2 separate regions of the Homo sapiens genome follow, and region 2 is linked to region 1. Evidence: fine-mapped expression QTL. A gene starts in region 1. The other region holds a variant in brackets. All regions are shown on one strand. Distances are between the middles of the regions.

Evidence for each region.
Region 2: its variant is fine-mapped to the expression of DDX3X in whole blood (TOPMed, PIP 0.98).

What each region holds. Positions count from the first base shown.
Region 1 is chrX:41,332,350-41,336,736 of GRCh38, reverse strand. DDX3X (DEAD-box helicase 3 X-linked) reads right to left here and starts at 2,575. Exons shown (of 17, transcript NM_001356.5): 1 at 2,440-2,575. The coding sequence starts at 2,484. RefSeq lists an enhancer at 2,945-3,174 and a silencer at 3,265-3,754.
Region 2 is chrX:41,385,421-41,389,807 of GRCh38, reverse strand. No RefSeq gene overlaps it. Among named protein-coding and RNA genes, the nearest start is that of DDX3X, 53 kb to the right of the region's middle. RefSeq lists an enhancer at 3,788-4,305. The variant G/A (reference allele first, on the strand shown) is at 2,034.

The DNA of each region.
Region 1 (4,387 bases):
GACAGAGTCTCCCTCTGTCATCCAGGCTGGAATTCAGTCATGTGATCTCGGCTCACTGCAACCTCCACCTCCCCGAGTAGCTGGGATTACAGGGGTGCGCCACCACGCTAGGCTACTTTTTGTACTTTTAGTAGAGATGGGGTTTCGCCATGTTGCCCAGGCTGGTCTCCTGACCTCAGGTCAGGTGAACCACCTGCCTTGGCCTCCCAAAGCACTGGGATTACAAGCATGAGCCCGGCCTGAAGTAGTTACCTGTTTTTACCCCATTTTAACATAAGTTCAAAGATGACTTTGAATAAATGGCACAACTGGCGTTCAATGCTCTTAAAGAGTAGGACATCTTAGTGCCTTTCATCTCTATTTCTACCTATCCCCTTACACTGGTAGCTCAAAAGCCTCTTCATTCTAGAAAAGGGTTATGTGCTACCTTCATAACGTTTTATAACCAGGAACTACTCACAAGTAGTTGGGAGAAAAAACTATACATGCAAAGTGTTTCATTTTTCTCAAAAAAGCCACAAAAGACCAAGTCACACAGTACCGCTGCCAACCTGTTTGCAAAAGATGCACTACATACCATGTTTATAAATCTTGTGTTTAAAGCTCAGTATGATACGGCCAAACCGCATGCATCATCAATGGAGTCACTGAAAACTGGAAGCAGATGCTATACTTTTAAAAAATGAGTGTAAGACTTCAGGCACCTAATTTCCAGAATTTCTATGAGCAAAAACACCACTGCGCTTTCTCTTGCTACCATCAATACTTTAAAGCACGGTAGGAACACAAACTTTCCTTTTGCACTTGTTATAGCACAATTTTGCTTTTTAAATAAGGTTCACTGTTGCCTAGAATCCTTAAAAGGACACTATAGCTAAATGGAAAATGGTAAAACTGGGAATACTCTGTGCTGCTGGTAGGTTGTTAAAGTGTCTGTTCAATTCAACATGTGTCAGCAATTAGAGGATTTAATATAATTGGTTCATTAACGGGTAGAAAATGCTTCCAAAGGAACAGATCAATTCCTAAAAAATATTACATATGACTACATTAAACTATGTATTCAATTAATTTGTGCCACTAAACTTCGTCTCAGGATTATTCCGGAGTTTGTGAAATCAACGCTCCCCTAATCACAGTAGACAGTAGTTTATTTAAAAGCTCCGCATAACCCACACAAGAGCTTATCTGAAGCCTGGTGCCACTGTTGCGGTGGGATGCAGACTTCCTGCCACCAAAGTCCATAACCTTCTCCTCTCAAATCACACATCTTTCTCTCCTCTGCCCCTAAACCCTTAGAAGAGGGGATTCTGGCTAAGAGAAAAAACCCGGGGGCCTGGGACCCATTGCAAGATTCTACTCCACAGATAGCAACAAGTCAACAACAAAACTGTTTACTTCCCCCCTAAGCCGGGTGTTTTTCCAATGGCGGATTCCTGGATCACAGTCACTAACACGAAGACACTACCACAACCCGCGATGACCCCTCCACCCCAGAAAAACAACGCGGGACTCCCGGCTAACATACCACACAGGGACAATCTGGGGCAAGCAAGGAGGAGAAAGGGCCTCGCTGGCTCCCTAACCTCCCCGCCACGTCCAACCTCTATCTCCAGGGCCCAGCGCGCAGCGGCCAATTCCTGCCTCCCCTCCCCGCCCCCACCCCTCCCCCACTCCTCCCCAATCTTCTGCGTCACAAAACTTTCCACTCCGGAAACGCAGCCTCCCCGGCTGCGGCGCAGGGCCCCCGGACCCTGCGGAACCTGGGCTGAAGCGAAAAAGCCAGCGGAAGGAACCCGGGAAAAAACAAGAAACCCATTCCATCCTCCTTTCCAGGCCTTCGCCCGCCCGAGACCCGCCGTCTCCCGGAGGTGAGCCACAGCGCCGCCCAGCACCACACAAAAGAGGCCGCCGCCATTACCCCGAGCGAAGGCCGCCCCCTCCCACATTCCTGGGCCGCGTTCTACCCCTTGCTCGCAGGCACGCAAACACCGGGTGCCGCCAGGTCCTCCGGACGGGAATCCAGGCTGCGCCAGCCGTGAAGGCCGAAGCCCTCCAAGCCAAAAGGGCCTCCAGTCGCGTCCCGCCGCGCTGCGCACTCCCGCAAACCCCCCCAGGTCACTAATCAGTCGGGATTCGCGCATGCGCGTCCCCGCGAGAGCGCGCGCACTTCCTCCCCCTCCGCCCGCCTGCGCACGCACACACAAAAGCCGCCATTGTGCTCGTCCCGGGGACAATACAGCGGGCCGAGACCGGGCCCGGGCGACAGCCCCAACCAACATTCCTATCCCTCTATAGCCCCGGGGCACTCACACCCGCCAGCCCGGGGCACCCAGAAAATGAAAAGTAAGGGTGCCGGTTAGCGCTGCGCCATTAGCCAGGTTAGGTCAGGGGAGGAATTCACGCAGCAGCCAGCCCGGTGGGGTTCTTGCGGCTCACCTGCTGGTCCAGCCCGAGCGCATTTTCCACTGCCACATGACTCATCCCTGAAGAGTACCGAGAACTCGGAGTCTTCCGCTGCTAAGCGAGTGTTTGTTCCACCGCGAAGGCCCTCTCACGGGAGAACTGCGGCTCTGGAGCGCACCGCGCGGCCACGGATCTAATATACCCGCTGGAAAGCCGGCTACGTCAGCACGTACAACGTGTGCCCTCCCTCTCACACCGCAATTCCCTGTCGCGGCGACTTCTGCCCGGCTACTGCGCGCTCCCTCAGGTCTAAGCTCAAGGGATTTCCTACTTAGTCCTGTCGCCCCTAGCAGTCCTGCCTTGGAGCTTAGGGTGCGAAATGCTGTCCCAGTTCTCTCGAGCTACACTTCCCGTGCTCTCCGCTAAAACCCTAGTCTCAGCCTCGGAGTTCTCGAGATCTCGCGAGAACTTGCGTCTCCCGCTTTCCACCGGCTAAGACGCCTGAAAATGTTAACCTAGGCCTCTTCGCCCCCCTTTCCAACCTTACGCATTCGCTCCCCTTTCCAACTCTATGCACTCAGCTTTCGTTTTTCGTTTTTTTTGTTTTTGTTTTTTTTTTCCTAACACTGGCCTTCACTCTTCTTCCTCTCTCAGTTCCCGGGCTTGGAGATGTGGTGGGATTTCTCCGGTCTAATCTGCCCTCGCTCTTCCGCGGGTAGCCTCCCCTTAGTGGGAGCTAGGCAGATTCCCGAAACTGAGAGGGCGGCAGGCCACGTGACCGTAGGTGTCGCGTGCGGTGGCCATTTTGTGAAGCAGGAAACGGTGGCTTGAATATAGAGTGCTCCGGACGGGGGAGGGGAGGGGAAGAGGAGGAGAGAACAGAGGGAAGGGGAGGAGAGGGAGGGAAAAGAGGGGAGCGGAGTAAGGGGAAAGGAGGAGGGAGGAGGGTAGGATGGTGACCGGGGCGGGAGTCGGGGGGAAATGGAGGGGAGCCGGCGGCGCGCGCAGGTGGCCGGACACCTTCCTGCGCGGTTGCCTAGGCAGCGGGGGCGCCGCCTAGAAACACACAATGGCCCCTCCTGGCCAACCCCCCGACGTGTGCGCGCGCGCCTCCGCCCCCGCCCCCCGCGGTGAGGGAACAATGAGACAGACACGCGCTGATCCGGAACCGCCGCTGGCGCGCCCTCCCGGGACCCCGGCTCTCCGCAGGAATGCGGGCTACATTTGCCCCTAGTTTCCTCCCGCGGGGCGCCCAGCGGCTTAGGGCCGGTGACCACCGGCGTTGCGGGGACCCCGCGGGTGGCGAACGGCTCTTCTAGGGCCCAAGGGTGTCGGGAATGTTTGTAGCCGGTGCAACCTGGGCCTGCCGGAGGGGCTGCAGCGGGGTTACCGGCCTGGGCTCGGGGTGACTCTCAGGCCGCTGCGGTGGATGAGGAACAGGAGGAACCGGGTTTCTACCGTCGGTGGAACCTCTTCCTGTGGTTCCCTCCTAGGCAGGCCACCCCAAGTCCCGGCTTCGGTGCCGCAGGCCCTTAAATAGAAGAAGGTGTTTACTAGTGGATTCCCGGCTTTGAGCCGGCGCCCGCACATCCGTAGTTTCTTATGACCGCTTTCCCCTCTCTTCTGACCCTCAGCCCTACGAAATTAAATAAAACGCAGTGGTTTCCACCACCCCCACAAAAGGTCTTCTGCTGCCAGAATTCAAATAGTTCGTGCTCATCACATAATTTACTATACACATAACTTCTCTCCCTTCTCAATTTTTAAAATCGAGACGGAAATTCGAACGAGATAGGGAGAGAATATCACACTGTCGGGGGCAAGTTGTTTAACGGCTTTGGGTCTCAATTTGCTCATCTATAAAAGGAGTCTGCTACATTCCATAACCCTGTGAAAGACCCAACTCCTTTTCATAACGAGTATTTTCTAACGCCCCCTTTACCTATACTGAAATAACAAAACCTAAATTGTTTATGTAAAC
Region 2 (4,387 bases), 53 kb before region 1:
TCCCTCTTTGCTGAAATCCAGCCAGAACAGAACTTTCTGTCCAGGCCACGCAGTACCACAGGGCAACTCTGGACAGCAGCACCCCCGCCCTCCTCTCTCTGTCCTGCACCTCCAAGATGTTCCATGTGGCCCCCAGGTTGGGGGGTGGGGGGGGGTGGCAGTGTGGGACACAATCTCCTCTCAGGGTCCCAGATTTGAATCTAGCCAGAGACCTTGGCTTCTGGTTTCTCTTTCAATTTACCCAACTTTCTACCCTTTCTCTGGCCATATGCCCAGAAGAGTGACCTTGGGACCCACTGCCACACCTCTCCTGGTCCTGCCTCCATGTTTCTGCCTACAAGTCCTGGGAACCGGAAGGGACGACTTTTGGGCTTTCAGTTTCTGCAGGTCATATCCTCCTACTAAAAGGCAACAAGTCTCACGGCTTGACTGAGGTTGGCATAGGGGTATCTTCTTTCTCTCATGGAAGAGACATTGTGATCTGAGATCTTTAGGATTTATATTTAATTTGCTCAAGAACTTTGGAAAAACCTTCCCTGCTCCCAAGCAGATGGCTACAGGCTGCCCAGGGAAAAGGTCGTCTGTATGGAAATACAAGAGAGGAAAGCACATTTGCATTCTTCTTAGTGTTTCTGCTGTTCCACATGGATTTTCTCGGTTACTGTCAGGACAACCTAGGAGGTAGTCACTACTGTTCTTTAATTTTTACAACTGGGAAGATTAAAGCACAGAAAGATCACATAGCCCATGCCTGTAGTGCCAGCTACTCAGGAGGCTGAGGTGGGAGGATGGCTTGAGCCCCGGAGGTGGAGATAGCAGTGACCCGAAATTGCGCCACTGCACTCCAGCCTGGGTAATAGAGCAAGATCTAGTCACAAAAAATAAAATAAAAAATAAAATAAAATAAAGGAAAAGAAAAGAAAAAGAAAAAAGAAATTGAAGATAACATCTTGATATATGTCCCTGAGTTGTTTTTCGGAACCTCGGGCCCCCATCACAAGGATCAGCTGGCATGTAAACCTCAGATAACGGGGAACTGAAGGTTGAACTCTGACCTCTGCTCTAAATTTCTTTTTGAGGGGCCCAGAGGAGGTCATGTCCACAAGCAAGAGTGAACATTCCTTTCTGTTGATCTCAAAGTTTTAGACAAAGCTTCACCTCCTTAACTAATCGTTAATCAGAAAATCTCTGAATCCTGGCTGGGCCCGGTGGCTCACGCCTATAATCCTAGCACTTTGGGAGGCCGAGGCGGGCAGATCACTTGAGGTCAGGAGTTCGAGACCAGCCTGGCCAACATGGTGAAACCTCCGTCTCTACTAAAAATACAAAAATTAGACAGGCATGATGGCGCGGACCTGTAATCCCAGCTGCTCGGGAGGTTGAGGCACGAGAATCACTTGAACCCGGGAGGCGGAGGTTGCAGTGAGCCGAGAACGTGCCACTGCACTCTAGCCTGGGCAACAGACGGAGACTCTGTATCAAAAAAAAAAAAAAAAAAAAAAAAAAGAAAATCTCTGAATCCACCTACGACCTGTGCCCCCACCCCCACAATCCCGGGACTTGAGGATGTCCTGCCTTGATTTATGACTTTGCCTGTAACCTCTACCTCTTTGCCTTTAAAAACCCTTACCTGTAAGTCATCATGGAGTTCCAGTCTCAAGCATTAGCTGGCCAATTCTCCTGGCTTGGTGTCCTGCAATAAATGTCTCACTTTCGCTGCTATCCCGATGTCAGTGTTTGGCTTTGCTGCTCCAGGCAAGTGGGCCCTAGTTTGGTTCACTAATGTGACCATGTAATCTGGTGCCAGTTTCCTCTTTAGACTGTAAATTGGATCTTCTCTCTCCAGTTCCCTGTCAAGGCTTTGGCCTAGACCCTCATCATTTCATTTCTGGATTCCTGCCCCAGTTTCTCAATCAGCCTTTTATTGCTAGTCATTGCTTCTGAGACATTTTTCCATAAATGCCAGGCTATTCCTTCTCAAACTCTACTTTCTTCATGTCGTCGCAATGGCCTTTGGCTCCATATCCCCTGCC[G/A]CAATGCTCCTGGATTTTTGTTTTTTATTTTTTATTTATCTTTTTAGTTTTTTGAGACGGAGTCTAGCTCTGTCTCCCAGGCTGGAGTGCAATGGCACCGTCTCGGCTCACTGCAACCTCCACCTCCCGGGTTCAAGTGATTCTCCTGCCTCAGCCTCCCAAGTAGCTGGGATTATAGGTGTGAGCCACTGTGCCCGGCCTATTCTGGACATTTTATATAAATGGAATCATACAATATATAATATGTGACCTTTGTATCCATAAACTTAACTAACAGGTCTTCAAGTTTCGCCAGTGTTATGGCATGTATCAATACTTCATTCCTTTTCACTGATGAATCATATTCTACTGTTTGGATATACCACATTTTGTTTATCCATTTGTCACTTGATGGTGTCAACCTAAAAGGAAGAAGCTGGGGCAAAATGAATATACGTAGAGAGTTTATTTGGGCCAAGCTTTAAAATTGTTATCTGAGAGCACAGATTCAGGTTGCCCTGAACATAACATTCTGCCTAGCAGCAGTTACAAGTGGATTTTTTTTTTTTTTTTGGAGACCAAGTTTTGCTCTGTTGCCCAGGCTGGAGTGCAGTGGCGTGATCTCAGCTCACTGCAACCTCCACCTCCCTCCCAGGTTCAAGAGATTCTCCTGACTCAGCCTCCTGAGTAGCTGCGATTACAGGCACACGCCACCATGCCCAGCTAACTTTTGTTTGTTTGTTTGTTTTTAACTTTTGTATTTTGAGTAGAGACGGGGTTTTGCCATGTTTGGCCAGGTTAGTCTGGAAGTCCTGGCCTCAAGTGATCCACCTGCCTAGGCTTCCCAAACTGCTGGGATTACATGCGTGAGCCACCGTGCCAGGCCTACAAGTGGATTTTTAAAGTAAAAATTTGTCTTTATATCACAAATCCCAGGTACATGAAGATAATAGGTGAGCCAGCTAGTCAGGAACAAAGTGACTTTAAACAATTGTCCCCAGGCATGCGGTGGGGGCTGGGGAGATGATGACTGAAGTCCCTATTCATGTCTCTCTGGGCCTGCTCTGAGCTATTTTTCTTTTCTCAGTAGACAATTGGGTTGTTTCCAATTTGGGGCTATTATGAATAATGCTGCTGTGAACACTCGTGTAGGAGTTTTATGCGTACATACGTCTCATTTCTCTTGGGTAGATACCTAGCGTGAAAGAAAAATGGAACTCCAACTCACTATGCCAAAGGGAAAGTTAAGCTTGGGAACTGAGTCATGCAAAAACTGCTTTCCTTTCATTCTCAAACAGATAGCTGTAATTTCACTTGCTTACTTTACCTTATGTAAAATGTAGATTTACTGAGCAGGGGAGGAATGCATAGTTGACTCCCTCCCCTTCCCCTTTCTTTTCACATGTAAAATGTAGATTCACAGTCTCATAAGAATGTAACCAGGTGCCTCATTGCCTACCCACCTTGTTTTTTTTTCTTCCCCTCCTGCTTGCCCTTTCCCCTTTATTTATTTTTTATTTATTTATTGTTATTATTATTTTTTGAGATGGAGTCTTCCTCTGTCGCCCTGGCTGGAGTGCAGTAGTGCAATCTTGGCTCACTGCAACTGCTGCCTCCCAGGTTCAAACAACTCTCGCACCTCAGCCTCCTGAGTAGCTAGAATTACAGGCGTGTACCACCATGACCGTCTAATTTTTGTATTTTTAGTAGAGATGGGGTATCACCATGTTGGCCAGGCTGGTCTTGAACTCCTGACCTCAAGTGATCTGCCAGCCTAGGCCTCCCAAAGTGCTGGGATTACAAGAGTGAGCCACCCACCACGCCTGGCCCTTTCCCCTTTATTTTTCATTTATTTTTATTTTTATTTATTTATTTATTTATTTTTTTGAGACAGGCTCTCATTCTGATGCCCAGGCTGGAATGCAGTGGCATGATCTTGGCTCACTGCAACCTCTACCACCTGTGCTCAGGTGATCCTCCCACCTCAGCCTCCTGAGCAGCTGGGACCACAGGCATGCATCACCACGCCCGGCTAATTTTTTTTTTTTTTTTTTTGGAGACAGAATCTCACTCTGTCACCCAGGCTAGAGTGCAGTGGCGCCATCTTGGCTCACTGCAACCTCCTCCCCCAGGTTCAAGCAACTCTCCTGCCTCAGCCTCCCAAGTAGCTGGGATTACAGGTGTCTGCACCACGCCCAGCTAATTTTTGTATTTTTAGTAGAGACAGGGTTTCACCATCTTGGCCAGGCTGATCTTGAACCCCTGATCTCATGATCCACCCTCCTCGGCCTCCCAAAGTGCTGGGATTACAGGCGTGAGCCACCATGCCCAGCCAATTTTTGTATTTTTAGTAGAGAGGAGGTTTTGCCAAGTTG